5 separate regions of the Homo sapiens genome follow, and regions 2, 3, 4 and 5 are each linked to region 1. Evidence: fine-mapped expression QTL. A gene starts in region 1. Each other region holds a variant in brackets. All regions are shown on one strand. Distances are from middle to middle. Region 1 holds the start of SUPT3H (SPT3 homolog, SAGA and STAGA complex component). Region 2 overlaps SUPT3H (SPT3 homolog, SAGA and STAGA complex component). Region 3 overlaps SUPT3H (SPT3 homolog, SAGA and STAGA complex component). Region 4 overlaps SUPT3H (SPT3 homolog, SAGA and STAGA complex component). Region 5 overlaps LOC101929770 (a long non-coding RNA gene).

What was found. PIP is the estimated chance that this variant, and not a neighbour inherited with it, causes the effect.
Region 2: its variant is fine-mapped to the expression of SUPT3H in whole blood (INTERVAL, PIP 0.99).
Region 3: its variant is fine-mapped to the expression of SUPT3H in prefrontal cortex (CommonMind, PIP 0.95).
Region 4: its variant is fine-mapped to the expression of SUPT3H in whole blood (INTERVAL, PIP above 0.99).
Region 5: its variant is fine-mapped to the expression of SUPT3H in whole blood (TOPMed, PIP above 0.99).

Annotation. Positions count from the first base shown.
Region 1 is chr6:45,374,783-45,381,246 of GRCh38, forward strand. SUPT3H (SPT3 homolog, SAGA and STAGA complex component) reads right to left here and starts at 3,152. Exons shown (of 11, transcript NM_003599.4): 1 at 2,986-3,152. All of the region lies in intron 2 of RUNX2 (RUNX family transcription factor 2), which reads left to right. RefSeq lists silencers at 2,794-3,073, 3,394-3,443 and an enhancer at 3,084-3,627.
Region 2 is chr6:44,843,928-44,850,391 of GRCh38, forward strand. All of the region lies in intron 10 of SUPT3H (SPT3 homolog, SAGA and STAGA complex component), which reads right to left. Among named protein-coding and RNA genes, the nearest start is that of MIR586, 350 kb to the right of the region's middle. The variant AT/A (reference allele first, on the strand shown) is at 3,562.
Region 3 is chr6:45,343,005-45,349,468 of GRCh38, forward strand. All of the region lies in intron 2 of SUPT3H (SPT3 homolog, SAGA and STAGA complex component), which reads right to left. All of the region lies in intron 2 of RUNX2 (RUNX family transcription factor 2), which reads left to right. Among named protein-coding and RNA genes, the nearest start is that of RUNX2, 18 kb to the left of the region's middle. The variant C/CT (reference allele first, on the strand shown) is at 3,563.
Region 4 is chr6:45,110,140-45,116,603 of GRCh38, forward strand. The region is part of intron 2 of SUPT3H (SPT3 homolog, SAGA and STAGA complex component); the gene reads right to left. Among named protein-coding and RNA genes, the nearest start is that of MIR586, 84 kb to the right of the region's middle. The variant GT/G (reference allele first, on the strand shown) is at 2,965.
Region 5 is chr6:44,781,911-44,788,374 of GRCh38, forward strand. All of the region lies in intron 2 of LOC101929770 (a long non-coding RNA gene), which reads left to right. Among named protein-coding and RNA genes, the nearest start is that of MIR4642, 350 kb to the left of the region's middle. The variant A/C (reference allele first, on the strand shown) is at 2,789.

The DNA of each region.
Region 1 (6,464 bases):
CTAAAGGTTTATATTCAAAGCAAAATTTTAAAATTATCAGTGGCTTAAATGGGAAAGTCACTTGCTGGCCTTATTCCAGGTATCTTATTTATTATTTAGACACAAAAACAGTAATTTTGTCACTGTTTTAAAGTATATTTCTGGCCGGGCACGGTGGCTCACACCTGTAATCCCAGAACTTTGGGAGGCTGAGGCGGGTGGAGCACTTGAGATCAAGAGTTCAAAACCAGCCTGGCCAACATAGTGAAACTCTGTCTCTACAAAAAATACAAAAATTAGCCAGGCATGCTGGCATGTGCCTGTAATCCCAGCTACTCGGGAGGCTGAGGCAGGAGAATCGCTTGAACCCAGGAGGGGGAGGTTGCAGTGAGCTGAGATCGCACCATTGTACTCCAATCTGGGCAACAAGAGTGAAACTCCATCTCAAAAATAATAAAGTATTTCTGATATTGCAATGTGGTTAATCATCCTAAAACTATATATTACAAGTCCCAACAAGGCTAACAGTAGGGTGACATTATGATGTGGTCCCAATTCGAACATTTTGATAGTGAAAGGGGTTCTATTAAATAAAATAATTGTGCTGGAACAATCAGGCTTTATACTACGACTGTCTCAGAAAAATTAAGATACTATAGTCACCCATAAAAGCACCCCATTCTGATTTGTATATTATGAGCTATTCTCTCCATCTGATTTAACTCGTGAGCTTTAAGTTATTGCTCCAGATCTAACAATTATCTTCAGCCTTAAGACCAAGAGCATCATTTTTTTTTTTAAAGAGACAAGGTCTCCCTCTGCAGCCCAGGCTGGAAGCCTGGCCTGACCATGATTCACTGCAGCCTTGAACTCCTAGGTTCAAGAGATCCTCTGGCCTCAGCCTCCCAAAGTGCTGGGATTACAAGCATGAGCCAACGTGCCTGGCCCAAGGGCACCATTTTACAGACATCAGGCCAAGGTTAAGGGTGCTACCGCTACCTATAAAGGTTTTTTATTTGTTCTTTTAGTTTTATTTTCAAATTTGACTTTATATACACTTGCTTTAAAAAAAAAAAACAGATGCACATATTTCAAGTAAAGTAATTTTGTGAAACATCTATTACCTAATTTCACTTATCTCTCCAAAAGATTTGGATAACCATAAAACTAGTTCTAAAATGTCCTAATGCTCAAGAGTTACAATTTTTCAAATCGCTTTATTACACAAAAGGTTAAAAAAGAAAAAAACTTGAATAAGAGCTGGAAACTTCTCACTGAAAAACCAACCAAAGTGGTAAAAGATAGCAGAAACCGACAATCACAAAATAGTACAATAATGTTTAAAGAAAACTCCAGTTAATACTGTCATAGCTCTCTGAATCTGGCATTAGCTGTACAACCTAGGAGACAACGTTTTGCTTTAATTTGTCAAGATGTAAATAAGTACTAACAGACCCATGGTCTGAACTGCAGTATTTGAATGAAAGGCATTATTTGAATATAATTACAATTCCCTATGGCAATAAATGTTCCAAAGAGCTGGCTTATCTGATTTAAAACTCAACCATATCAAGACTCGGAAGGACTCTCAAAATCTAAATTGTAGCCCTGTGCTGTCCAATGCAGTAGCTACCACTAGCCACATGTGGGTATTTAAACGTAAATCAATTTATTAATTTATGAATAAAATTAAAAATTAAGTTCCTCAGTGACACTTATCACATTTCAAGTGCTGAAGAGCCACTGTGCCTAGGCTACCACTAGTGCCTAAAGGCACAGATTATGGAACATCTCCATCAAGGCAGAAACTGCTAGTGAAAAGTGCAGCCCTAGACTTAGGCATACTTCGCTCCAACGTCCCGAATATCCTGAGATAAGAAACTTTCCATAGCACAATGAAGAGCATTCCATTCTTGCAAAGTACTCTCACGAACTGTTTCTCATAGGCAAATTCAGCCTCTTTGAAACATTCACCAGAAATTCCCCAAGTTTTGTCCTTCAAGTAAATCTTTGCAGGGCGAATTTAATTCCTCTTCCAGAGTCTGCCCTTCACATATACTAAGACCCCAGGTCCTCTCCTTCCAAATACATACATACATATATACACATACATATACTTATATACACACATATGTATATACATATATATACACACACATTTCTTTCTACCGAAATAACTTAACATTTCTATTAGCCTCTTGGAGAAATGCTAATTTATCCACGTGTACAGTAATACTACGTCCAGGATCGTCTGAGTGTCAAATATTACATATCACTGTCTTCATAACTTCACTCTCACGTGTGAGACCAAGTGTCCTGATTCTCTGAGAAAATAAGGTCACAGTCATTCTGAACTCCTAAAACGTGGAGAGCAAAAGCAGAGCTAATATGTACTGAGCAGCACCTGGCGCTGTTCTAAGCGTTTAACGTGTATTTTCTCATATAATCCTCACAATTCTGAAATAGGCTATAAGATCGCCATTTTACAGACCAAAACAAGGCAAAGACAAGCTAAATAATTTCCCCAGGGGTCACAGACGTGAGCTCACCCCACAGAGAACACAGCGGATCTTTTCCTCTTTCTGGATGCTACACTCCCACTAACTACCTAACTCTTCTCTCGCCGTGCCATAAAGCAACAATTTCCCTCTTTAATGATTCCTCCGGCAGCCCCCACACTACCTAGACGACCCGCGCACCCCGCTTCTCAGCACAGCCCAGCCCCCCTCACCCCACGCCCACCCGCCAAAAGGGAGGAGTCGAGAGGCAACTCCACGCTCGGCAGCGGAACCAGGGCGCTGCGCCCGGCCAGCGCCTCCCACAGCCGCCCTCCCTTCAACACTCCGGCGTAGACCACGAAGACCCAGGCAGCCGCCCTCGAGCCGGGGCCAGGGCGTGGCCGGCGCGGGGGCCCAGCGACGCTGGGATCTCCGCTCTGCGTCCCTCCCGGCTCTCTGACGTCTCCCCCGCCCGAATCCCCGCACCGCCCCCCGCAAGCCCTACAACCTCTGCTTTAAGAACCCTTGGAGGCACTGCTGCGCTTCCCGCGAGGAGAATGTGGGGGTGGAGATGGTGCGGTTTCTGCTGCTGCGGCCCGGGACACGCTTGGAAAGGGGCGGGGTGGGGGACTGAGAGTGTGGAGTGTAGAAAGGGAAAAGGTGACTCGGCTGTGTGACGGGGCGATGGGGGGGGTACAAGATGGCGTGAGCCCGACTCTCGGTGGGGCGGGGGTTGCGGAGACTGAGGAGTAAGCGATACGGACGCCCCCCGCACTGGCAGTGCGGGCGCATGCGCGCTTGGCCAGGTGGCGCGCGCTCTCCCAGCCCGAGCGAGCTACTTCCGCCACGCTCGCCGGGGGCGGGGCGTTGTGCGCGGCCTTCAGGGCCCGGCTTGGGCAGCGCTGAGCCACGCGGCGGCGTTTAGAGCTGGGGACGCTGGGAGCGGAGTGGGGACGAGCTGAGATCGGTCAGGGTGTACAGGGTGCAGGCTTGAATTCTTTAGGAATTGGGCCCGAGAGGGCTAGGATTTTTGAAGGATTGGGTGACCGGCACTGGAAGTTGATTTTCAACTCCGAGGAAGAGATTCACCGTTCTAAGCTTCTTTCCAGGAATTGGAGTGAACGGGATCTTAATGGGATTGCGCGTTTACAATGGTGAAGGGAAACGGAGGGGTCTGAACGCTCCCCGCAGGGCCGCAGTACAGGCGTGTGGATGTGGAACCCTTTCTGGGACGGCGAAACCAGCTCTTACGCCGCTTCCGCGCGCCATCACTCCCTACCCTGACCTCGCACAGAATCTGTTTCATTAATCTGCTATTAATGTTTTTTCCCCAACTCATGTTACTAGACGCAGGCGTTTAACTACCATGTTTTGTTATTGAAAACTTTTTCTACTTGAAGGCTTTTTTTTTTTTTTGGACGATTCTGTGTTTAGATTTTGGCCTGTTCCTCATTTTAAAATCTTGCACCCCCAGTATTGTACTGTACATTCTGTCCTGCCACATTTAATTGATATAGATGTAGTTCTTTAAATAATACAGTAGTCGTAAGACAATGCTTTCAGTCTTTCACTCTTTATATTATATGAAGTCTTATTTATATTTAACATTCTTATTGCCTGCTTAGAGAAGAAAACTGGTTATCCATGCTCACCTTCACACCTGTGTTGTCAAATACTATAAAATACTGTATTTTATAGGGATTCAAGTATTAACCCTCACCAAGTCTTTTTAAGCATCACTGCTTCAGTTATTTTCTTGCCTATAGATACTGTGAGTTCTGAAATCCCTTCCTTCTATTTGCTTAAATTGTTTAAAATAGCAACTTATTTGGTTATTTCCTCTGTGGATTGTAGTTGAGTCTGCTAGTGTTGTGTTTGATTCTCTTTAATCTCCCCAACGCTTCAATATTTGCCAAATACCTAAAATTCCAAAAGAATAGATATATTTAGGATGTGAGAGCTCAGCTTGATGTGTAAATCAGGGATCAATTCATTGCTGAGCAAAGTGTGCAGTATAAGGGAAAGTAACAGAGTGAGTATGGTGATAACTTCTTACATGGGAAGACTGGTTGAAAGCTCTTTTGAGTACATTACCAAGAAATTAGTTAACAGAAGATTAAGAGAAAAATTAATGTTCACATCTAAAGAAACATAAAAGTAGATCATTTCAATTAAAATTATGTTCAGTTAATGTTATCATAGAAGTTCCTGCACTGGAGTTTCACCTGCATCAGATGAGTACCTGTTTGATCCAGTTTATCAGGATAGAATCCAGATCATCTTATTCTAGGATACTGGTGTCCAGCCTGCATAAAATCACACACAGGCCAGGCGCGGTGGCTCACGCCTGTAATCCCAGCACTTTGGGAGGCCGAGACGGGCAGATCACAAGGTCAGGAGATCGAAACCATCCTGGCCAACATGATGAAACCCCGTCTCTACTAAAAATACAAAAAAGTATCCGGGCGTGGTGGCACGTGCCTGTAGTCCCAGCTACTCGGGAGGCTGAGGCAGGAGAATCGCTTGAACCTGGGAGGCGGAGGTTGCAGGGAGCCGAGATCACGCCGCTGCTCTCCAGCCTGGCAACAGAACTAGACTCCGTCAAAAAAAGAAAAAAAAAAATCACGCACAACAAAAGTTAATGAGAGTGACACATGGAGAAGGGAAACTGAGTTAAGGCATTGATACAGGAAGTTTAAAAATTTATTCTTAGGAAACTGAATTGGGCTGTTGGCAGAGATCTGATTTTTAAAGTCACATGAGTTAACCAGGTTCCTACCTCCTGGAATTTCTTAAAATCCATTTTTGAAAATCTGATTTAGCCATAATTTTGCTCATAGTTTGAGACCATTGCTATATACAAAGGGCCAAAAATATTTTTGCATTACATTCATATCAAATATCCTAAACTATCAATGGTACTAGGGTATCTTAATTATAACAAAGCTAAAACAGCGAAGCTGTTGCTGAAGTTAAGGCTTTGATGACTACCACCTCTCAGAAAAACAAGTGATTTTCCAAGGCATGTGGGGAAAACACATCAGGAGACCAAGTTAATTTATCACTCCACAAAAATGTCTCCATGACCTGGACAAAATTGTTAAAGAAAAATGAAGCATTGTTAGCGTAGACTTTAACGTTCCTCTGGCATGTAATATTCACGTAGACTCACTAGTGCAAAGAGAAAGTGCATGTATCTAAGTAAAAGTGCCCATGGGCATCTTAAAATGATTAGGTAGTAAGCCCACATTCTCAAAAGAGCAGCAGAAGTCATGGCTAATATGGAACCATCTCTCTGATTCCATGGAAGTGGTTTCTTTTTATTATTATTTTTTGAGACAGAGTCTCGCTCTGTCACCCAGGCTGGAGTGCAGTGGCCCGATCTCGGCTCACTGCAACTTCCTCTTCCCCAATTCAAGCGATTCTTCTGCCTCAGCCTCCTGAGTAGCTGGGATTACAGGCGTGTGCCACCACGCCCGGGTAATTTTTGTATTTTTAATAGAGACGGGGTTTCACCATGTTGGTCAGGCTGGTCTCAAACTCCTGACCTTGTGATCTGCCTGCCTCGGCCTCCCAAAGTGCTGGGATTACAGGTGTCAGCCACCGCACCCGGCCAGAAGTGGTTTCTTCTCATGTGGATGCTACAGTGACAGTTCAGGTGACTTGGAAATTCTTTGTTGTTTGAGATTCATAACTCTTACTTGCTAGGATGTTTGTGGGGACTTTTTATTTTCTATTTATCAATTATTTCATCCTTTGCTATATTTGCCTTCTATTTTTAATGCTTAAGTTGTCACCATGGAAATAAACTGGGTAGATTGCATATTGTTTAGAACCGTATATTGCAATTGTTGCTATATTTGTTTTCTGACGTTGAGAACTGTTTTCCAATTGCATTCTCAAAAGTATCTTGTTTTATGTTTAGAGCAAGTTGTTCTGACCAAAAAGATTACTCAGCCCGGTAGTACCTGAGCAAGTCACTTAACA
Region 2 (6,464 bases), 530 kb before region 1:
CACACACACACACACACACACACACACACACATGCACAGAAAAAGAACAAAGTTGGGAGGAGGCACACTACCTAATTTTAAAGCTAAAGTAATCAAGTCAGTATGGTATTGGCACAGATAGAAATGCAGATCAGTGAAACAGATGAGAGAGTCCAAATAGACCTACACGTTTTTGGAGTATTTATTTTCAGCATAGGTGCCAAGATAACTCAATAGGGAAAGGACAGTCTTCAATATATGATGCTGGAACAATTGGACATCCATATGCAAAAAAGTGAACCTCGATTCTTACCCCATACCATGTACAAATATTAACTGAAAATGAATCACAGACCCAAACACAAGTAACCATAAAAATTCTAGAAGAAATAGGACAAAATTTTTGTGCCCTTATAAGCAAAGCTTTCTTAGCTAACATACTTATCTGTAAAAAAAAGATCGATAAATCAGACTATGTCAAAATTACCAACTCAAGAGAAATGAAAACATGTCCATGTTTTATAGGTGAACATTTATATATTTTTATGTAAACTTTATTCCTAATTGCTCAAAACTGGAAATATCCCAAATGTCCACTACAAAGAAACCAAATGCGGTACACCCATAGAAGGGAACACTCTTCAGCAATAAAAAAGGAATGTATTATTGATATATGCAATAACACAGATGAACTTCAAATGCATTATGCTAAATGAAAAGAAGTCAGACTCAAAGGGGTACATATATACAATTTGCATTTGTATGACATATTACAAATGGGAAAATTATAGGGTCAGAAAACACATCAGTGATTGACAGAGCTATGGATGGTAGGGGTAGAGGACTGACTATAATGAGATGTCAGGACATCTTTTTTGCAGCAATGGAAATGCTCTAATATTTTAATTGTGATGGTGGTTTTATGGCTATATACATTTGTCAAAATCATCAAACTATATATTTTAAAAGAATGAATTTTATTGTATGCAAATTATAACTCAGTAAAATAAAACAACAAAACCCCCCCCACAATAATGCTTTTGTTGGAGATGGTCAGGATTTGTACATCACAGGCAGGATGTACTTGTTTGGACTTGAACAGTACTAGAAATGAAACACAGCACTTAGTAAGTTTCCAAGTTGTTAGTTTTCTACATGGCAGCACACTACATGTTCATTAGAAAGTCCCAGTTGAATAGAAAAATTATATGACTAGAGTTCCTTAAGACCAAGGTAAACTGTGTATATAATTATACAATAAATTCCATTCATTTTGGCAAACATTTATTGAATGCTTACTAGTACCAGACACTGGGGTAGAAACTGAGTGGGAGAAAAACAGATACGTGAGGCATAAAACAGGGTCTCCTGGGACTCACAGGAGTACATCTAAGCCATCCATTCATAAGCTATCATTGTGAAGTGATATACCAATCACTAGACAGCTCTGAAATGGCATTTCTCTATGGAGGGCTTGAATTCTAATTCTGAAGAACTGCTCCTTGATAAAGGTATATGAAGTAGCAGGCTTTCAAAAACTGTTTTGGTACTGGTATGGAAGAGGGGCAAAGAAGTGCTGGGAAGAGAAGGGTGGGTCCCTGGTGAGGGCTCCACCCTAGGGCCTGTACCCACAGACCTAGGTGAGGACAGGCACTTCTGCCCAAATGTTGCATTTCCCAAGACCACCCTGGTCCACCACGCCCCGATCCTGTGCCTATAAAAACCTGAGACCCTAGTGGGCACACACACAAGCGGCTGGACATCAAGAGGAACACACTGGCAGAAGAAGACACAAGAGGCTGGATGTCAAGAGGACGTTGAGGGGAGCTCGCTGGCATGAGCCCAGGCCACTGAGCAACCCGACACCAGGGGAAAATATCTCCCTTCTGGCTCCCCTATCTGCTGAGAGCTACTTCCACTCAATAAAACCTTGTGCTCATTCTCCAAGCCCATGTGTGATCTGATTTTTCCGGTACACCAAGGCAAGAACCCTGGGATACAGAAAGCCCTCTGTCCTTGCGATAAGGCAGGGGTCTAATTGAGCTGACTAACACAAGCTGCCTATGGACGGCTAAACTAAAAGAGCACCCTGTAACACACGCCCACTGGGGCTTCAGCTGTAAACGTTCACCCCTAGACACTGCCATGGGGTCAGAGCCCACAGCCTGCCCGTCTTTATGCTCCCCTAGAGGTATGGGCAGTGGGGCACTGAACAAGCGAGCCACACCCCCACTGCATGCCCTGTGAGGGGGAGAAGGGAATTTTTCCCATTTCAGTACCATCCCTGATCCTTTGTCCTTTTCATCACTTTGCCTTCCAACTTTGCACTCACTCTGCTCTGTAACTTTAGGCTTGTCAATCATGAACTTTTCCTCAACTTAATGCAAAAGGCTAGTTAAGGATACCAACAGTTCGATTTACTAATCTCTTCAAGAGTTACACTTACGCATATTTCAACAAGCTAACCACACAGATAGTGACAAGAGGCTCAAAGGTAGTTCAGACACCAGACAACCTTACAGTTGAAGGGAGGAACCTCAGAGCCCTTCAATAAAGCATGTGCACCAGACTACAGAAGAAACAAGGGAGGTTTTAGAAGGGAAGGAGTGGGAAAAAGGAGGTAAGACCAGGATAGATGTCTATATTGCAGGAAACTGAGAAGGGTCTTTGGAGAGAACAGGGGAGGGCTGAGCTTTCTGAACATTTTTGTCTTTCCCAATTGAATTTTTTTTTTTTTCTTTTTGAGACAGAGTCTCCCTCTGTCGCTCAGGCTGGAGTGCAGTGGCGCAATACTGGCTCACTGCAACCTCCGCCTCCTGGGTTCAAGCAATTCTCCTGCCTCAGCTTTCTGAGTAGCTGGGATTACAGGCATCTGCCACCACATCTGGCTCATTTTTGTATTTTTGGTAGAGACGGGGTTTCTCTGCTGGACAGGCTGGTCTCAAACTCTTGACCTCAGGTGATCTCTCCGCCTTAGCCTCCCAAAGTGCTGGGATTACAGGCGTGAGGCACTGTACCCAGCCCCAGTTGAAAAGTTTTTTGAAGACTAAAACAATTTCCACATCAGGGATGGAGTTTTTAAGGCTTACCGTTTGACTTTCTTGGCTTTTTCTGTGTTTAAACTGGAAAACACATAAATGTGATTTTTCTGTTTTCAGTAATTGATATTAAGGATGAGATTGAATCCTTGGGCACAAATCAGGACAATGCTCTGAGAACTGGACCCTTAGCATCACAATGAAAGACTAATATTTTTTTTCTTGTATTTTAGTTTGGGACTGTGCTAGCTACTATATACTTTTCCAATTGCTGATACAGTTATTTTGTTAGGCATAGAAATGACCTGAGACTACAAGTCTGGTCACAATCAAAGTGTCTACACATTTCATGGAATCAGCCATGATTGGTTATAACAACACAGATTAGCTGTTACTTAAATATTTACTACAGGGAACAAGAATTGTGAAAACAGCACTTACACTTGTGTTTACGTATACCTATCGCCACTTGACTCATTCTATAGCTATCATATTACTGGTTGAATACTAATTTTTAAATGGAAACTTAAACAGTTATGGGAAG[AT/A]TTTTTTTTTTTTTTTGAGACAGAGTCTTGCTCTGTCACCCAGGCTGGAGTGCAGTGGCACAATCTTGGCTCACTACAACCTCCGCCTCCCGGGTTCAAGTGATTCTCCTGCCTCAGCCTTCTGAGTAGCTGGGACTACAGGCATGTGCCACCATGCCCAGCTAATTTTTGTATTTTTAGTAGAGATGGGGTTTCGCTATGTTGGCCAGGCTGGTCTCGAACTCCTGACCTCGGGTGATCCACCTGCCTTGGCCTCCCAAAGTGCTGGGATTACAGGCGTGAGCCACCACACCCAGCCTATGGGAAGATTTTTTAAATGCTCTGTCTTTTCTTCTCCTGCTCTTGTCACTGGTGAGATGTCAACCTAAGCTACTATAGACTATTGTTGGAGATGTATGGATTCCACTAATTTTCTTTACCATTCATTACAGAAATATTTTCTTCTAGTGTTGACAGTTATCTCTGTGTCTTTTTTTTTTTTTTTTTTTTTTTTTTGAGATGGAGTCTGGCTCTGTTATCCAGGCTGGAGTGCAGTGGCATGATCTTGACTCACTGCAACCTCTGTCTTGTGGTTCAAGTGATTCTCCTGCCTCAGCCTCCTGAGTAGCTGGAATTACAGGTGTGTGCCACCACACTCAGCTAATTTTTTTTTGTATTTTTAGTAGAGACGGGGTTTCACCATGTTGGCCAGGCTGGTCTCGAACTCCTATCCTCAAGTGATCCACCTGTCTCAGCCTCCCAAAGTGCTAGGATTACAGGAGTGAGCCACTGTACCCAGCCTGTGTCTTCATAACTAGACTTCTGGAGGTCTTTTATTGATTTCTCTAGCACGGTGACTTTTCTCAACACTGGCTGGTTGTACATTAGAGCCACTTGGGGAACTTTTAAATATCCTGAGACCCACTGGCACCAATTAATTTCTGGTGACAGGCCCCAGGCATCAATTCCAAAGTTCAGCCAGGGCAGAGAACCACTAGGCTAGGGAGAAAAATCAAAACCTTATTTGTCAGGTTCATTCCTAGTTTTAAATCTCTGTTGTCTTTATTCTTGTGATAAGAACAGTATTAGAGTAATAGTCTGTGTACATTTGTTGTGTGGATCTCTGCAACTGTCCTTTTCTAATGAAGGTTTTCCTGTGAGCTGACTTACAATTATAAGAGAGTCTTTTCTATTACAGACCAATAGATATTATAGAGATAGGCAAGGTACTTCTACAAGCATTCTCTCATGTGAACCTAACTGTAATTCTGGAAAGCAGGGGGGATTACTATGCCCATTTTAGATGAGAAACTGTGGCTCAAAAAGGTTAAATGATTTTTCTAAATTTCGTGGTTCAATGACAGACTCAGGACTCGAAACAATGACATCTAACATTTAACCTACTACACTTCCTACTACTTCATTCCCCCCAACCTTCCTTTGAAGGAAATCAGAAGTGAATAAGAGACGACTTTCTTTTTAAAGGCATTTTAGTCTAAATAAACAACTGATAAAAACACTACCTTATAACTTTAATTTCAACTCCAATGTGACATTATAGGCTAAGTCATAGCTGAAGCACTGGGTACCATACATGGGAGCAGTTTAACGTAATTTCATGAAGTGCCTAGAATATAACATATGGCCAACAAATATTTGTTGAATAAATTTACAAACTTCCACTTGTTTCTTGCCATGTATATGACTTTTCTATAGGGCATAGCTGTAGATATAAGCACTACAAATGAATACTTTTTTTTTTTTTTTTTTTTTTTTGAGACGGAGTCTCGCTCTGTCGCCCAGGCTGGAGTGCAGTGGCGGGATCTCGGCTCACTGCAAGCTCCGCCTCCCGGGTTCACGCCATTCTCCTGCCTCAGCCTCCCAAGTAGCTGGGACTACAGGCGCCCGCCACTACGCCCGGCTAATTTTTTGTATTTTTTAGTAGAGACGGGGTTTCACCATTTTAGCCGGGATGGTCTCGATCTCCTGACCTCGTGATCCGCCCGCCTCGGCCTCCCAAAGTGCTGGGATTACAGGCGTGAGCCACCGCGCCCGGCCATGAATACTAATTTTTATTCTAGTTTGATCTGCCTATAATCATGAGGATCTGGAGAAAGGGTCAGAAAAAGTAACTAAGCATTTAGGCTGAATTAGTCTTGCAGGAAGACAAGGACAGACTGATGGACAAAAAGAGACACAGACATAGTCCTCTATTCTTCTGTCTGGAACAATAATCTCAGGAAATAACTAAATATGTGCAGGAGAAAATATTAACCAAAAACAGCTTACAAGACCTACACATTGAATTAAAATCACTGGGCAGGAAAAATAAAGGATAGCTATTCCAGCAGATCAACCAGATGTATGGCCTGAGTACAACTGTAGAGGCAATATATTTATACATTTATAAAAGCGAATTCATACTGTTGGCAATGTATTTAGCTGGGGAGAAGACAGTTACTATGTATTTGTAATAATGCCCCCAGGACACCTGGCCTGAGGACCACCACTGGCTGACATTTGGAGCAATGCATAGATACCACTTCCTCTTCAGACATTCAAGTCTGAGGAGTTGCAGAGTGGATATGAGGCCAAGAACTGGTCAGAGATGATGACTAAAATCTGTGAAACAAAATGCTAGTTAATGGTAGAATAACTTCCAAGAAAAAGAATCAACAATTTTAAAATGCTACTAATGTAAGAATGCACTAATGATCAGATTAAATTTTAACCAATAAATGATTTAAGGAGGCCTAAGGGACAATCTCCTTATTGAAAAATAAAAACTTAAATAAAATAAACAGAAAATTGTTTGAATCACAGTTCCCCTCCACTTCCCCCTAACCTTTTTTTTCCTGCTTCCTTTCAGTTTCTTTAGTCTCTCAGAAATTCCCTGGTGGGGCTTTAAAGGGACACACTCTTC
Region 3 (6,464 bases), 32 kb before region 1:
TCTCAATTTCCTCATCTGTAAAAATATTACCACCTACCTTGAAAGTTTCCAGTTAAATAAAATGTAAAGTGTCTACACTGATCTGACAAAAGCATTACAATTATTAAATATAATCAACTTTCCAAACCTTAAATCATCTTAAGTCTAAACTCATACTCATAGTGTGGCTCACAAAACAGCAGAATCAGCATGACCTGAAAGCTTGTTAAAAATGCAGAATCTCAGCCGGGTGCAGTGGCTCACACCTGTAATCCCAGCACTTTGGGAGGCCGAGGCGGGCAGACCAAGAAGATCAAGACCATCCTGGCCAACATGGTGAAACCCCTTCTCTACTAAAGGTCCCTAAAGTTGTTCACTTGATCTGTTTCAGAGTTCTGATACTGAGTGAAGAGCACCTGGTAGTTTACTCTTAATTCTGAAGGACTCGAGAGACTAACAGAGATCATCTAATCTATAATAATTGCACCTCCAAAAGGCAGCTTTTCAAACCTGAATAGAATTTTCACATTCATACACCCCTCAGTTTACCCACAATGACTGATTAAGAGAGAAGGTCCTATGTACATAACTCTCTCTTGTAAAAAATGCCTTCAATAATTTGAGACATTCTGCAAATTATTAAGTTGCATAACAGTACGAACTAGCTACTAGTCTATATTTCTTCATGTTGTCAATGATGTCTCACCACAAGCTTGTGAAAAGCCTTGATGAAGTTTAAAAATGGTGTCTCTGTCCCATGTTCCTGAGACAGCTATCCAGTAGCTCTGATGTAACACAGAAGTTTGTGAGGCATGACTACTGCTGAGGAAAACCATTTGGCTCCAACTACTCACCTTCTAGGTGCTTAAAATCATGCTTTTAATAACCCATATTAGAATCTTAGCCATCAAAGACCTCCACCTGACAGGTCTACAGGCTTTCATTTTATAACCAGTTGCCCTTGATATTCTATACTAGTTGTTTACTGGTAAAATATTTTACAATCACAGGTGCCTATTCCTGTCTTTTTTCCTCTCCATGACTACTAATTGAATAAAACAGAAAATATGAGACAATTGTATATATGAAAAATTGTCAAACTAAAGAGCAATTCAAATTCCTTTTATTCGGAGAGATAAAAGTTGATATGAAGTGGATATGACAAAGAGAAAGAACATCCACTAAATACTTAGTAGTATACAAAGAGTTAGACCATGACAAAGTTCCTAGAAGTTTAGCTCCTCTGCAGGGGTTTCTTAGACTACTTGAACCAGAATTTTCAATCTTATTTCTTATACAGTTGGGAACCACTTCATTTATACTTGGCCTAAACTTCCCCTTGTCTGTATACTTATTTTTGCTCTCCACCCTTAAAACTGACTTGCCCTTAGCTATAAACAATGTACTTTGTTGCCCATTCATGCAGTGCTTTATTGTTTTCATTCTCTGATGGTTTTTTTTTTCATTCATGTCCAAATGAGCAGTGCCTTAGATTCTAAATATCCAGTGGAGAGCCCATATATGTACATTTTCCTTTGAACGTCTAGAACAGTAACATTATCAATTAAGTACTTAACTGCTTTACGATATGCACAACAAAAACTATTAAGAGGCCACAAAAAGCTATGCCTACCACAAATTTAAAACCCATTAAAAATCAGGAATGTCAAAAGCATGTTAACTTTTTAGGTAAAGTGTATAAACTAGCTCTTCATGGTTGGCTAGGAAAGCCTAGAGAAAAAAAATCCTAAATATGAAAGGTGAGTCTGCCTTTAAGACAAAAGAGAAATATACTTGGTGGACCTAAAAAAGAAGGCCACTTCAGAAGTTAAAAATGCAGTAAGCCAAGATTCAGACTATGACAAGGGAGACGGTAAAACTAATGGTACAGAATTTTTAAATCCCTGAAGTTTAAGGGACTCTTTACAAGCAGGATAGTTTAGTAGTTGCCATGGACTATGCTCTGAAGCCAAGCTTCATTCTGGTGAGTTTAGAAATCTGTTTCACCTAGCTGAATCAGAATTTAGCAAACTGATTTATGTAACAAAAAGGCTGTACATTAAAACGTTCCTCATGGGATGAAACAGAGGAGAAACTACCCACTCATCTGCGCTGCCTCACATGGATGTTTTGAGATTTAAATGAGATATTAATACAAGATGTCAGAATACTTATAAAAATCTTTGACACTTTATAAAAATATCAAAGATAAGCTATTACAATTTAGTATTATAAATAAAACTTCTGTTCACTTGATTGTTAAAGACTGTAAAATGTCATGCTCAAATGACATGTTTTCCTATTTGCTATGAGGTTGACAGTAAAACTTTTGCCCCATCTCAGCAACCAGAGGGACTTTATTATATGCATCTCTGCAGACTTTTACCTTCTAGATTAATTTTGTATCTCTATTCCTTTCAGGCTTCATCTCAATTTCCATTTTTTAATCCTTTAGTATTATAAATAATTATGATAGACTCCTCAACCAGGATACAAATGATAAACCAACGCTCAAACCTGCAGCTTAATGGCACGATCAGCTTGCTAGTCCTCTAAGATAGAAACCTTGGAATCATTTTTGGTAACTAATTCTCTAATCTCATAAATCCCCAAGACCTAACAATCTAACCTATGCAATATCACTTACACTTGCTTGCTATTCTTCATTCCCATTCCCTCTTACATGGACTACTACAATAGGTCTTTCCACAGCCAACTCATTTTACATGATGCATTATCAATTCTTCTTAATGAGTATCAATGCACACCGTACCTTTATCTTTCAAACATTTTTCAAAGGTTTCCAATTGTCTTTGAAAAAGACTTAACTCCTCAGTCTGCCAAAGCTTGCCACATTTTGATACTAATCATGTTTTATCTGTATTTTCTATGACCCAGTTTCTCTCTAGACACAGTAAGCTATTTGCTCCAAATGCCTCATCCCTGCCTCTGTGTCTTTGATCATGCTGTCTCCCGTACTTGCAATATTCCCTACCTATCCTCACTGTCACCCTACCTACAAATCTCTACAGGGCTAAATATTGCCTATCCTTGAAGAAAAATCTCAAACGACACTATTTTCACTGGCTTTCATCCTCCAAATTGAAAACTCTCTGATCCACCTCCATATTCCTATAGTAGCATATCTGTAACTCTTTTCACATACTTACCTGCATCTACCACCTGTCATTCTCTCAGTTTCTATGTGTGTAAGATTCTCACTCTACTTATGTATATATGTAAATATATATAATTCTACTAGACAGGTGATACTGAAGTTTTTAAATTGCAAAATCCATTGTTCATAGGAAATGCTATGAGAAAGCCCAATAAATAAAATAGATTTTTAAAGGAGTCTACAGGGTTGAAACGAAGAAGGGTGAGAGGGTAGCTAGAACCTCGCATGCCCTCCTGAGCAGCCCCACAGGCAACTTCATTAAGCACAGAGATACAATACAGTACACTAAACTACACACTCTCTTGGTAGCACAGATACACAAGAATTCCCTCTCTCCCACTCTTACTTTCTTTTCACATCATCTAGCCAAATGCCTGGCATATAATAGGAATTCAATAAACATTT[C/CT]TTTTTTTTTTTTTTTCTTGAGATAGGGTCTCACTCTATTGCCCAGGCCAAAGTGCAGTGGTGCGATCTCGGCTCACTGCAACCTCCACCTCCTGGGTTCAAGCAATTCTCTTGCCTCTGCCTGACTAGCTGGGATTACAGGTGCAGGCCACCATGCCTGGCTAATTTTTATATTTTTTTAGTAGAGACCCAGTTTCACCATGTTGGTCAGGCTGGTCTCAAACTTGACCTCAGGTGATTCGCCCACCTTGGCCCCCCAAAGTGCTAGGATTATAGGCGTGAGCCATCGCGCCGGGCCTCAATAAACATTTCTTAAATGAATTAATGAAACATTAGGTGGAAGTGGATGGACAAATAAACAAGTGCCTAAACAAAAAGTAGGAGGACTTAGCAAAGGGACGTGGTAACAGCTAAAGAAATACTATATAAGAAAAGAAAATGCCTTAAAAATAACTTACATGGCTGAAAAGAGAGGTGGTACTTTATATAATTAAAAATTGAACACATTTTAAATAAAAATACCCCACAAATATGTGTGAGTTTACTATCAAAGAAAGAAGCTAAGACTAAAGAATTATTTACATGTATCATATTAAGATAAGTGAAATAATGGGATATCTGGCTAACATCTAAATTTAATTTATATTCAACACCTTAGAATTAAGAGATATAGTAAATTAAACTACAGTGAATAATTAAATTTCTTTAAAATGAATTCGATTTCACTGATATATATATGACTGTTAGGGAACAGTGTTCTGATTTTAAGATGTATTTCCTTCTTTCTCAAGTTACAAATGTAAAGTTCTGCAATTGTATTTAAAATCTTTTGGTGGTAGATGTACACAAAAGAAATACCTCAACATAAATCACTATGGCACATAATGAACCCAAAAGGAATATCCATGTATCATTATAGGCAAGATGTTAAGTTTGAGAAAAACAAAATCTGACCTTTAATATATTTTTTAAACTGGTTAATAAACATAAATGCAGCAAGGCTTACATTCCATATATTTTTAAATTCCCCAGCATTCTTGGGGTCTGTCTGCAAAAGCAAGGGAATATGCACATGACAGAGAAAAAAATTTTAAATAAAAGAAACATAATCCTGTGAGATTATTCCCTTTAAATAGAAGAGTGAAATCCAAATACTTTATTTTTCTACATCCAAAAAAGAACTTCACAATTCTTTTTTTTAAAAAAAAAAGACGTATATTTCATTAAAACACTGTTTGTCTATTTATCAGAGAATAATTCTGTATTCACATTGTAATTACTATTTTTAAAAAATACTACATGCCTACTGAAATAATGAAACAGAATGTCAGTATGGTTACCTGTGAATGAAAAAATTATTTCCCTCCTTGGTTCTAGAGATTCCAAAATCTCAAACAAATGCATTACTTTTACAATCAGAGAAAGTTTAAAGTTATATAAATAGGTATGTATGCATGTGTACACATGTGTGGATATGTGGATATGTGTATGTATCCCTCTAAATGGCCTGCTTATGTCTAGCTTATAGTTTTTACGTTAAAAGCAGCACCTTTCTCATTTCCATAGAAATGAGAAAAAAGGGGCATACTTACATTATTTAATAATTAAGAAAATAAGTTTAAATCTAATATAACATAGCAGTTAAAAGTCTGACTCTGGAGTCAGAAAGACCAAATCTAATCCCAGTTCTACCACTGAATAGCTGGATGACTCTGGAAAGCTATTTAATTTCTATTAAAGAAATTCTAAATTCTAAAAAAAAATTCTCTACCATTAGTTTTATCGTCTCCTCATTTTCTTAATCTAAAATTTGGCAATAGCCAGGCACGGTGGCTCACGCCTGTAATCCCAGCACTTTGGGAGGCCGAGGTAGAAGGCTCACTTGAGGTCTAGAGTTCCAGACCAGACTGACCAACACAGTGAAACCCCGTCTCTACTAAAAATACAAAAAAAAAAAAGTTATCCAGGTATGGTGGCGCATGCCTGTAGTCCCAGCTACTCAGGAGACTGAGGCAGGAGAATCACTTGAATCCGGGAGGTGGAGGTTGCAGTGAGCCAAGATCCCACCACTGCACTCCAGCCTGGGTGACAAAGTAAAACTCCAACTCAAAAAAAAAAAAAAAAAATTGGCAATAATATCATTCAACTAACAAGGCATTAAATGAAATAATATATAGGAAGATGTTAGTGCACATTACCTATTTAGTGATGGAAGTGATATTTCCTCTTCCCACAACTCTGTGTAACCAAAATTCCTATCGATCCTTCATGTTTCAGCTTAAATGAACTCTCTTTGAGAGGCTTTAGTTCCCCCATTACACTATCTCATAGTATCCTGTACATTTTCCTTCAGAGTCCTTATCACAATTTATAATTATTTATTTCCACAAATGTATACACAGTTCATGGCACACCACATGTACTTAGTAAATGTTGAATAAATGAATTTATGAGTGGAAAGAGGTTTATAATCTTTCCACTGGTATCATTAAATTCTGTCATTACGTAAATCAGTGGGATCCTGATTATAAATGTTACTGCCTATAATACAAATGGGGTATTTAAATTTCAATTTAGTTCTTCTAGGGACAACTACACTAGAGGGGGAAAAAAGAATATCGCTAGTATTTCAGTCTACTTCTACATATTTAAAGTCACAATTATGGAATCACAATAATTCTCTATATTTTGTCCCACAATCTTCCATTTAATGAGTCCACTAAAATAAGGATTAAGAAAAATGTGGGTTCTTTCTTGGCTTTCAGTTTACCTGCTGAGTTTTCTTTAAGTCACCATCTGCTACGGCTATGATTAAATTAGCTACTTATTGATAAATCGGGGCACTACAAGATGACATTATATAAAAGCACTAGTTTTCCAAGTATGGTCTCTGGATCACCAA
Region 4 (6,464 bases), 260 kb before region 1:
GATTGGGGCGGAGCAACTTACACCCTATCTTCTCATGCAAACAGTATTGGCTTTATTCAATCCTGGGATGAAATGTCTCACTTCAACCTAGGGCAACTGACTCTGCAATCCGCTTGACAGGTGCACAGTGAAAGTATGAAACAAACAAGGGCATTCATGAGATGAAGTTAAACTTTTTATTCTGTATACTTATACTGGGATCCAGGAGGATGAATGCTGAACAAAACCATTGGATACTGTTTTAAAAAGACAGCAGAATTTATGACTAACACTTTTAACATTTTTGCGCTATGTATAGCCCAATACTATCTAAAATTAGGGGAGATCCTTCAAATAGACATCTATTAAAATATACAATAAACGTCTAGTCATTTTGCTCTCAAAAAACAACAGAACCCCTTTTCAGTGCTTTCTAACATCAGCTTTTTTTAAAAAAAAAAAAGGAGAAAGATTTCTTAAAAATGAAGGAGCTTTACTATCTTATGTTGAATCCACATGTGACATCTTTGGTTAGTAATCTATGCCAAGATGCTACCCAAATATAGCAATACTCTTTTAATCTCTCTATAAATTCTAAAGCATCATTTCATTTGCTAAAATCTTTTGCTAACCTCTGGACCCTATGTAAATGCATGTATTTGATGATGTATCAATTGACCTATTCTCCTCACATCTACATATCCCCAGCTGTGAAAGGCAGTCAACTCCAAACTCTTTTAATGGCATAAACTGTAAGGGGAAAATAAATACTTTTTGAGAAAGTATATGTAATGTGTGTACATATGTGTGTGTGTATTTCTTTTCAAGTTATACAAATTAATATAATAACAAAACAGCATAAAATAAACACAAAAGAGAAATATCAAAGGAGGTAAGAAATAAAACAAACGATACTTTTTTTTTTTTTTTTTGAGACAGAGTCTCACTCTGTCACCCAGGCTGGAGTGCAGTGGCGCGACCTTCGCTCACTGCAACCTCCACCTCCCGGCTTCAAGCAACTGTCCTGCCTCAGCCTCCTGAGTAGCTGGGATTACAGGCGCCCGCCACCATGCCCAGCTAGTTTTTGTATTTTTAGTAGAGACAGGGTTTCACCATGTTGGCCAGGCTGGTCTCGAACTCCTGACCTCGTGATCTGCCCACCTCAGCCTCCCAAAGTGCTATGATTATAGGCTTGATCCACTGCCCCCAGCCAAAATGGTATTTTTAAAAATATATTTTATTTATTGGTGTTAGAAAATCTTTTTGCATTCACTAACATATATACATTATTGTTATCAGCATGACCAATCACCCTAGTTTGCCTGGGATTGAGGGGTTTTCCAAAGTGTTCCCTACCAAGTAAATCAGTCTAATTAGTACTAGAAGGTCATGGCATACATTCCCCCCTCCCTCCCCCCCGCAAAAAAAACAAGCAAGAAAACAGTTTCATTTGTTAAGGGAATGAATTAACAATAAATAAAACTTGTATTTTTCCTTTCAAACAATTACCCTTATTATTTCAGTTCTAAAGTCTCAAAACAGAAACAAATAGCATATGGGAAATTTATTCCTTCATCTGAAGATAATGCTTTTCTATTCTCTGATGTTGAGGATGAAGTTCATGAGAGTCAGTGGATGAGTAGGTGCCCAGCTGACATCTCACTGTAGTCACGGCCCCCCCACCCCCACTCAGGGAAAGAAATAGCACCAAACTAAATGACCAGCCAGAGATTTGAGCTCAGAAAAATGGATGAAGTTCACAGGGCTTGTATCCAACTAAAAAGATTACAATAATGCTGCTAGAAGTCATACTATATTCTGGCCGTCAGCTACAAAGTAGGAAAAGTCAGTAACCATGAAAATATCCTGGAAGTTAGAGGATCTGGTTCTAGTTCCCACTATGCTATTAAGAAGTACTGCAATGAGCAGGTAACTTCTCCTGGCACCTCAGTTTCTCAGCAGTAAAAGGAGGGGACTAGATTAGATAATTTTAAAGAAACCTTTTCAGAAACTTTATTTTGAATCAAATATATCTGATTCAACTATAATTCGTAAATCTTAAAGACTGTCTTCAAGAATGGGGCAACACTGTTATGAGAAAATCAAATTGCACAGAGTAAACTGTGGGAAAATCATGAAATTAAGAAAAAGAAAAACATGTTAAAAATGAGTAACAGAACGAAATAAATAAATAAAAATAATTAGAGGAAGGAAAAGAAAGCTATAGTTTATCCCTGGCCTTATATGTGGAAATAATTTCTAAGAAACATGTCATTGTTCCTTAAATTTAAAAAAAAAGGTGGGGGGTGTTGAACATATTATCACGGAATTTTACATTATTCTTTTTCAATTAAAAGAATTTAACAGGCCTAACTTTGAGTCTAAAATACTTGTTTTTAAATTTCCAAGCCCTGATTAAGAATAGAGGGGAAGGACTGATTAAGTTTCTAACAGAGGGGAAGGACTGATTAAGTTTCTAACAGAGGAGAAGGGCTGATTTAGAGGGGAAGTGCTGATTAAGTTTCTAACAGAGGGGAAGGGCTGATTAAGTTTTAATTAAAGAGATTCTGAAAAAGAAGCAAAGGGGATAAGTTTGGTGATGATCTGTGGACAGCCTGCTGGGCCAGTCACCAAGCATACAAGGCCTACAAGCAGATCTACTCATAAAGCATCTAGAAACCAAACATAAAGAAAGGATAAAGAGATGTTTCTTTACTGCCATGTGTACATCTTCTTGGATGCTGAGTTGCTTTCAATACTTCCCACTGGCTACAGACTCTAATGTGGTTAAATCATTCTGGATACTCTGGTTAAGTAATTGCTGTGGTCTTGGGAGCTAGTCACTTTTTTTTTTTTTTTTAATTAGTTCTGGTTTTTTTGGATGTTTTCCTACCCCAGGTAATTGACATTACTTTAGAATGGACACTGTGTGACTATTGCTTGGTTTAAGAAGGCTCTGGGTAACTTGCTGTCCCCAAAAGAAAG[GT/G]TTTTTTTTTTTCCGTTCAAAGCATTTTTTGATTACACTTTTATAGACTAGGTATTACTATAATACCCAAGAATTTCTCCTAAATGGAATTAGAGTGAATACCAGGCTACAGCCCTACCATACACTTTAGTCAGCTAAACTAGTACTAGATGATGTATGTGAACACAGACATCATACTGTTGTTTATGTCATTCTTACCCAATATCTGTTGACACTGATTTGTCCACTATCCAAAGTGGGGAATAAAAGTGCAGAAGTTTGGCCGTGATCAGTCATTTAATGCAATTGGAAAGTTATAAACACTACAAATTAGCCTTGCTCTTCAAATTTTAACAGCTCTTTCACAAATCTATGATTTTACCCACCTGTTTTCAAAGGAAGAAATGAATTTTATTAACAATAGCTCTAAGAAACCCCAAGTGATAGGTAAATCAAAATATCAAATAAGGCTGGGCGTGGTGGCTCAACCCCAGCACTTTGGGAGGCCAAGGTGGGTAGATCACCTGAGGTCAGGAGTTCCAGACCAGACTGGCCAACATGGTGAAACCCCATCTCTACTAAAAATACAAAATTAGCTAGGCATGGCATGGTGGCGCATGCCTGTAACCCCAGCTACTTGGGAGGTTGAGGCAGGAGAGTCGCCTGAGCCTGGGAGGCAGAGGTTGCGGTGAGCCGAGATTGAGCCATTGCACTCCAGCCTGGGCGACAGAGCAAGACTCCATCAAAAAAAAAAAAAAAAAAAATCAAATAAACATCTAAGACAACAGATTTCCTAGCAGTGATGATTTTTCTCATTGCTTGCTTGATTTCTCAACAACCATTTCCCCATTCCCCTTCTGATAGTAAACATTCATATAATTTAACTGAACTTTGAGAAAACTTTTAGAATTTTACAAAACACCATGAAATAAATATAAATATGTGAAGATATATAAAAAGCAAAATTAAATTATTTATGATATAAAATAAATAATGCTGACGTAAAAAAATACAAATATACTAATATACATATATGTTTAAAATAAAAGATAAAACAGTATAAAATTTTGAAAAGGTAAACACATAATACCTACAAGTATTAATCACTCAATCAACAAATATTGACTGATTGCCTGGTATGTGCCAGGCACTGTTCTGGTTCCTTGGAACATATCAGTGAACAAAACAGACAAAAAAATGAGTCAAGTTTACATTCCGATGAGGAAAGGACAATAAACAATATAACTAATGAATTACTAAATAAATAATTTGTATGTTAGAAAGATGAGAGAAAAAAACTTAGAACAGAATCACGAAATGTATGCAATGGGCAGTGTGAAATATTAAAACATGTATTTATTAAGATCTGATGTGTGAAAGAAATAGCTTTAAATAGAAAAAATATATAAATCAGAAAATTTTTTTAAAAATCAAGATTTACATAAGAAAGCTCATCCATAAATATTTATAAGAAAGCTCATAAAATAAAACTCATCTACAGTGCATGAAAATGTGCATCTGAGAAAGTTTACAAAACTAGCAGAATATCTTTATGAATTTCTTCTAACAATTTACAGGGCATTTTTCCTCATATATCCTACATTTCTAAGAAGCAAATATTCCCATCTTCAAACTCTTAATAGATAGCAGCATAAAGCAAATTATTATAAACCGTCCCTATTTGAGGAACAGGAAAGATCTATATAGCAATCATTGAATGTTAGGTCAAAAAATAATCTAAAAGATTACGTAGTCCTTTCATTCAGTTTTAAACAGATGAAAAATGAAAGCCCAAGAGGTTAAATAGCCATCTCAAGGTCATAAGTCCAGTTAGAAGTAAAACTAGGACTTTTACCTCATCCAGAACTCATTGTACAACAACACGCTAAATGAACATCTATTAAGCCTCCAAAACATTTAATGGACTTTACTATCTTAGATTGACTGAAATTTAGTCAAAAAACTAACTTCCTATAACATTGAAAACAGATACACTGTAATCACAATAACACCTCATAGTCATAGAGGACTTTTCTCACCTATCATTTAAAGCAAACTGTAAAGCATGCAAACAGGAAAGTTTCTCCCATGTTACATAAACATGGAATCAGAGAGAGTCAAGAAAGTTAAGACATTTACCCGGGGAGTCAGCAACAGTAAGCGTCAAGATTACTTGGTATGAGATAGTCACAGAGATAAGAGAATTTTGTACCATCAGATCTTTAGAAAATTATCAATATAAAATGGATATAAATATGGCATACTGCAACAACATTTTTCAGATTGACAGTGTCCAGAAGAAAAAGTATTTTGTAGTTAAATGAGCTTGGAAAATGACATATTTTATTCTTTTCTAGATTTGCAATACATGTTACCATACTAAACACTCTGAGAGGTTCTGAAGAAAAGAAACTCTTGATTTTAAACGTATTTACTGTGTATATAATCCTTTTCTAAGCCCATGGAGTTACATAGCATTGAAAAAAAATTAGGAAACACTGATTTAAACAAACAAACAAAACAACTTCCAAAATAACTTAAGGACTTTAGTGAGAGGATTCCAAATAAAATGCAACCTAAGATTTTAGAACTCCAAAGCCAAGTTCTTCAGTTTCTAACAATGACATGATGATGGTGGTGATAATGGCAAACATTGTGAGCTTTTTAAAAATGCACTTACATTCAACGAATATTTATTGAATACTGGGTCTACATCATGTCAGGCACTGAATATTATACTAGCTGAGAATTTTCAAAGTTCCCACAAACTTAAAGACATGACTGATTTTCTGTAGCCATGGCAATAAACAGCCACCAGAACCAGGAACAGACTCATTCCAGTAAACACACCCTTGAGTGCCAACCAATCAACAACATTCTCATCTCTCTTATTATAGATTATGTCAACTCCAGAACACGACCAATCCCTGAACTCAATGCTTCCTGAAAACCCAAAAGATCAGCAGCCTTCCTTGCTAACAAACTGTGCTTGACCGGCATGTATCTCTCCTTTATGATAAGAAGAAATAAATCAAGTTTTCTGTTTTTATTTCAGATACTGAATGACAGGCTCGTTATTTTTCACAGCATTTAAGGAAGTTTGCCCTCACAAACTAGTCAGCCTAGCCTCCCTTCCTCTCCTTCTTCTCACATTTTATTTTGAAAGATTCCTAACCAACAGAAAAGCTGAAATAACAGTGGAATGAACACCTGTAAATCCTTCACCTAGAATCACCAATTATTAACATTTTAGCACAACTGCGCACGTTTCTCTCTCTCTCTTAAAAATTATACACACATACACTTGTATCTTTATCTGTATTAATTTTTCTTTAAACAGTAAGCATGTATTAAGTGCCAGGTATATTTATATATGTCATTTAAACCTCTTAAAGACCCTGCAACACACTATCACTATGCCTGTCCCTCTGCATCTTGGAGAGATATTTGTTCCAGTAAGTGAAATTCTGGGTTTTTAAAAATTAATTTCCATATGCTGGGATTAGCTTTGTCCCCTGGA
Region 5 (6,464 bases), 590 kb before region 1:
GAAACAGGATCCCTTCTGTCCCAGGGCAGCCACTTGGAATTCCTAGTCCTCATCAGGAATTGGGATGTAGCTTAGTCAGTGAGGGTAGAAACTGAATTAGAGAAGAAATAGAAAATCCAATTGCTCATGAAGGAATCCAGACTGCAAACAATGCTAAATGCTGCCTCCCTTGTCAGTCCACATATGGATAACTGCAGAAATGAATGTCCCAGGGGCCCTGGCTTAATGTTTCAGGCTCCTGCCCTTGGCATCATCTAACAAAGAGCCCGTAGCAGGTTTGCACTAAAGAGCTGACCCTAGCAGTGAATTCCTAAAGTACCAACAGTTACTGGCTGGAAAGCAGGCAGCCTGGTGGCATGTGGGGGGCAAGATTCCCCTGACCTTGCCTTCTCTCTGGAGTGCGGAGTGCATGTTTGGAAGCTTCCACATTAGCATGGCTCACATTCAGCACCAGACCCTGGCCAGGGTGGCATGGGCAGTGAGCACTGTGGCCACACACATGTGAATGTAGGGATGTGTATTCCCTTGATGCCCTGCCCCTACTGCTGAGCAAGTCATCTGGAAGCACACAGACATCTGCCAGTTGCTTTAACAAAGTATGTTGGCAAGTGATCCATCTAGTAATATTCCTGGCTCAGTAGACAGTAGTGTACAGTAGTTAATAACCAGTACACTACATCACTAAGAACCAGCTATGTCACCTACCATCTGGGATACCTTTGGCAAGTTACTTAAGCACTCAAAATTTCACTTTCCTCACCTCTGAAATATAGATAATAAAGGTTCCTAAATCATATGGAGGGTGGCTGCCTCAGTGAATGGTGATCTCATTCCTCCAGTTCGCTCAGGTCAAAACCTGGTTGATCTCCATGGTCCTTCTCTCAGACTCCATCTACAATCTAGCAGTACATCTTGCCAGCTCTGCCTTCAAAATATCAACATATATTCAGGATCTTACCATCTCCATTGCTCCTCTCTTGTTCAAGCCACCATCATTTCTTGCCTACATCATCTTATTAGCTTCTTAGTAAGTTCTCCATTTCTACCCTTGCCCTCCTGCAGTCTATTCTCCACACAGCAACCAGAGTGATTCTTGTTAAAACATAGTTAGTCTTTCTCTTGTATTACTCGCTCTTGGGGAAGTTAGATGTCATGTTGTCACGACACTCAAATAGCCTGTAGAGAGGGCCATTTGGTGAGGAACTGAGCCTCCTGCTAACTCCCATGTGTGGGAGCCATCCAGCTTCAGTCAAGCCTTTTAGTGACTTCGGCTCCTGCCAACATTCTGACTATAGCTACATGAGAGGCCCCAAGTAAGAACCTCTCAGCTAAACTGCCCCTGAATTTCTGAACCACAGATACTGTGTCATAATAAATGTTTTGGGGTTAATTTGTTACATGACAATCAAGAATACAGGTTTTTGGTATCTGCAAGAGGGGGTTGCCATAACAAATACCTACAGAAGTTGAAGTGGCTTTGGAACCAGGAGGTAAATGGAAGCTGGAAGGACATTAAAGAGAGTGCTGCTGAAAGCCTGAAGTGCCTTGAACAGTCTGGATGAGAAGGCTGCTGATAGGCCCTAACAGGAACAAAGGAACATGTTACTGGAAGCTGGATAAAGGGAAATCCTGAATACCTAGTGGCAGAAAGGGTAGCAAAAGTGTCACCTAGAGTCATGTGGAAATAGAAAATGCACCTAATGAACTGTGTGATCTAGTAAGGATATTTCCAGCTAGAGTGTTAGAAGTTTCACCTGATTCATGATGCTTCTACTAAAATGCGACAGGAGGGAGATAAGCTAAGAGGAGTAAGGACTTGTGATTTAGACACTTCCTAACATCTCTAGATGCCAAATGATGCTAAAAATTAAGAAATATCTTTTAACTAAAGATCAAATCAAGGGCACTGCTGGGAAAACATGGTCCAAAAATAAAGCTGAGGCTGTGGCTGTAAAATTCATTGTTAAGATTTCAGAAAAGATCTAAGAGATGCCTTAGAGTACCATTCAGATAGACAAAAGGTGCTAAAGTTTCTAAGAAGCTTAAGAGTAAAGCTAACTGATTGCAGTAGAAGCCCAGGGTAGAGAAGGGCTTATCTCAAAGAGATTTATATGTATGTGGCTTTTGTCTAATGGAGAAAACCCCCAATGACATTCATAGGAAAGCTACAAGTTTTTAGATAATAATCACAAAAACATATCCGGCTTGTACTGAAAGGGACAGAATTAGTACAAAATAAATAAAGGCCTTTGGACCACAAAATTCTGGCAGGAATCAGGGTGAGACAAAAAACAAAAATAAAGAAAAAAAGAATGACTCACAAGGGGAAATCAAGAGCACAGGGGCTGGAACTAAGAGCCTGGATGTTAGAGTCAAAATCCAAGGAGAATTGTTCTCTGGCTTTTGACTCAATCAGAAGTAAGACTGATTCCTAATCAGGGAATTTGCCCCCATGAGATTTCAGAATTGCTATGGGCCAGTGACTCCTTTGTACCTCCCATTTCCCCTGCTTTTGAACAGGAATTCCTGTAGAAATTATCCTATCCATGTTCCAACATCAAGTGTTGGGGGAGGAAGGGATAACTTGTCTGTCTAGTTTGAAGGTTTTAAAATCAAAAGTAGCGTATTCAAGGAGCTTGCTTAAGGAACTACCCTCAAAGGAACCCCATGAGCACCTAGACCTCATTTAGATGAAGGGATTCTGAACTTTGATCTGAAGCCATAATGGTATGAGACTTTTGGGAAACTTGGAAAGGGGGAAGTGTATTTTGCATGTGGGAGGGAAGTG[A/C]ATTTTGGAAGGCTAGAGGGTAGACTGGGATAGCCTGCCTCAAAGATGCCCTCCTACTCAGACTCATGTCACTTACAAGTGCCCCTAAGTGTGACTGTTGTACCCCTGACTGATAGTGGGATATAAGAGGCTGGTATCCTTTTGTGTAAGTGGCATACATTTTAGGTGGTAATTCATACTTCAGAGCTCCCCACGGGATCAGACAGACTAGACTTCCTCTGAACCCATTTCTTTGCCTATCTTCTTCCCTTGTCCTATCCTGCTTTATTCACTCCCTCAATAAAACATTTATACACAGAATTCTTGCCTCAGGTTCTGCTTCTAAGAAACTCAACCTAAAACACCTAATAATTATAAAGTGGTGCTTGTTCAAGACATGTTTACTTCCTAATGGAATTTTGGGGCATTTTGTGAAATCGTCATGGATATCAGGAAAAAAAAGAATGAAACAGCCTTAAATCCAAAGTTAAACAGCCTTAAATCCAAAGTTGAGATATTCATGGTTGAGGTAACATTGGCAATCTTTGTTTGTTTTATTTGCTTGTTTTGTTTTTTCTGTTGAACTTGAGGAGCAGAGTAGAGGTAATTGTACTCCCTAGTTGGTAGTACACTGTCTTCACTAGCCTGGGCAAGCCCTTCTCTTGTTGCATTTTATTCCATTTCCCCCTTCTCTCTGACTCACGTTCTTATTTATTCTGAATATTCACCCTAATGCATTGGAATGATTTGGATATCCTTAAATTTGTTTGTATCTTTGTAAAATATGTACTGTTTTGTGTATACATGTTTTTAATTTGCATAAACAGAAATATGCTATAATTTTTGTTCTGCTTCATATTTTTTTACTCAGCACTGTGTTTTGAGGACTATCCATGTGATTATATGTTCATTTAGCTCATTGCTTCTTACTGTTGCATGATATCAGCTCTTTAAGTTAATTTTAATATAGTCAAGTTTGTCAGTATGATCCTATATAGTTTGCATTTACCTGTCTTGTTAAATAATTCCTTCCTGGCTCTGAGATCATAGAGATAGCCTCTCCCATTGTCTTCTGAAAGATGTAAACTTTTGCCTTTCACAGGTTTTTAACCCACCCAAAGTTGGTGTTTTTTTTTAATGTAGAGTGTGAGGTAAGGCTCTAAGTTTATTTTTATCTCACATAGATAACACATTGTCTTAGTTATATTGATCAGTCCACCCTGCAATGCCTGTTTTGTATTGGGTTTGGTCCTGGGTTGATTATTCTCTTCCACAGGTCTCTTCGTCTCTTCTTGTGCTAATACCGCACTGTCTTCATTTTTATAGCTTTATTGAAAGTTTTGATATTTGGTAGGACAAGTCCCTCCATTTTGTTTTTCATCTTTAAGTTATTTTTGACTTTTGTTCTTCCATATAAATTTTTAGAACCACCTTGTTTAGTTGCTGTCCCCCTGCCACCACTGTCATATACACACACGTAATGAGATTTTGCTTGCACTTGCATTGACTGTGCATCAACTGAGGAGAATATTGACAACTTCAGGATCTAGAGTCTTCCTATTTAAGTACAGTCATCTTAATTAGGTCTTTTTTGTATCTCTTAATACATGTTTATAACTTTATCTGTAGAGGACTTTCACATCTTTGGTAGATTTATTTCTGGATATATTTTTGTTGCTATTCTAAGTGCAGTGTTTTATTACATTGTCTAGCTGTTTTTACTGGAATATAGAAAGGGAATCAGCTTACGTATTAGGTTGGTGCAAAAGTAGTTGTGGTTTTTGCTATAATATCACTTTTAAAGTCTATTTTATTAACTCTAATATTTATCTCAAGATTATTTTGAGTTTTCTAAATGGAAAACCAAATCATCTGCAAATAATGGTAATTTTGTTTCTTTCCAATCCTGACATTTCTTTATGTGTCCTGTGGAGATGGCTGGACAGCATTGAACAGGAGTAGAAAGGGACAGCCCCATGTTTCTGCCATCACAAAGGGAGGGCTTCTGCGATTTCAGGGAATGCGTTTGCTGCAGGTTCTTTGTGGATATTCTTGATCAGATTCAAGAACAGGTCTTCGGATCCTAGTTTGCAAAAAGCTTTTGTTTTCCCATTGTCAATTTTTGAATTTTACCTAATGCTTTATAAGGAATTCATTGCTTTAAAAAGCAATGAGATGATCATAAGGGTTTTCCTCCTTTAATATAACATTAATGTAATGATTTATTAATTGTTAATATAATTATATAATTAATAGATTCTAACTTGGCCAGGATGTATTGTTTTAAAATTTATTTCTAATAAAATATTTGTTTGCTAATCTTTTGTTCAGAATGTTTGGAGTGAGATTGTCCTGTAATATTTTTGCTTGTACTATGCTGTCATTTGCATTGATCTCTTTTTAGTCTCCTCGGTAAATTGGAGATGGGAGAATAAATTGCTCTTATTCCATTATTTTATTTGTATTGGAATGATCAATTCTTTAAATGATTTATAGAAGTTACTGTAAAGCCTTTTGGACTGTGGTTGTCTTTTTACTGCTATTTTAAACTAGTAATTTAATTTCCTTAGTACTTATAAGATTACCCTGGTTCTTTATTTTTGCTTGAGTCACTTTTGGCAACTTGTATTTTTCTAAGAATTTATCTATTTCATTTTATCTGAATTTTTAAATTTACAGACATAAAGTTGTTCATAGTATCCTCTTATTATCTGTTAATCTCTACAGGATGTGTGGGTCATGTTCCATTTTTCATTCCTAAAATGGAGCGCTTTAGCGCCCTTTTTTTCTTGATTCATCTTGCCGAGGTTTACCTTTTCTAAGAACCCGCTTTTGACTTTGTTGATTCTGTTATCTATTTTCTGGTTCCTTAACTTCTACCTTAAGTTTTATTTCCTGCTTTCTTCTTCCTGTGGGCTGAGTGGTTCTTTTTCTGACTTCTTAAGTGGGAAGGCTGTCACTCATCTCGGTCCTTCCTTACTCTCTGAGGTAAGCATGTACAGTGTCCTGGCCCGTGCGTTGCTCTTAGCTGCAGTCCTGAGTTCTGATATGGTATGCGTGCCCCTCATTTTTCTTATCCACTCCCCTAGAGGTTAACATTTGGGATTCTCTTAACTCTCCATCACCAAAGTAATACCACACAAACATTTCTGTACATATCCCCTTACCAAACTGTGTAAAAAGGATTGCTTGAGCTTGGAGAACCCCATACTTGGTTTTCTTTAAATATTGCCAGATTTCTTTGCAGTGCGACTGTGCCTGTGCCCATTCCCACCAGTGGTTCCTGTGTCCTCACATCCAAGCACTGAGACATTTAAACAAGACCAGGTGAGCCTTCAGGTGGCATCAGAATGCCTTCACACTACCTCTACTACCCAAGTAGAGGAGGATCGGGGAGGCTGTCTAATCCCGAGATGTGCCACACCAGCCACTGCTGACCCGCGTCAAAGGACGCGGTGAGGAATGGGGAGAACAGCTTGAGCGGAGTCTGCTGTAACAACTGAAGCACTTTGAGTCCCAGAGGTGAGACTCTTTGTGGAGGGCCTGAGGCCTTGCTTGTGGGTGAGGAAGGCTCTGTCAAGGACAGAGAGCTAGCTCCGGCCCCAGGCTGTTTTCTGTCGTCTGGTGCCACCCAGGATTTTATGAAGGGCTCCATCTCCTCCTTTCCACAAGCCCCATTCCACATCCTTGACCCTAA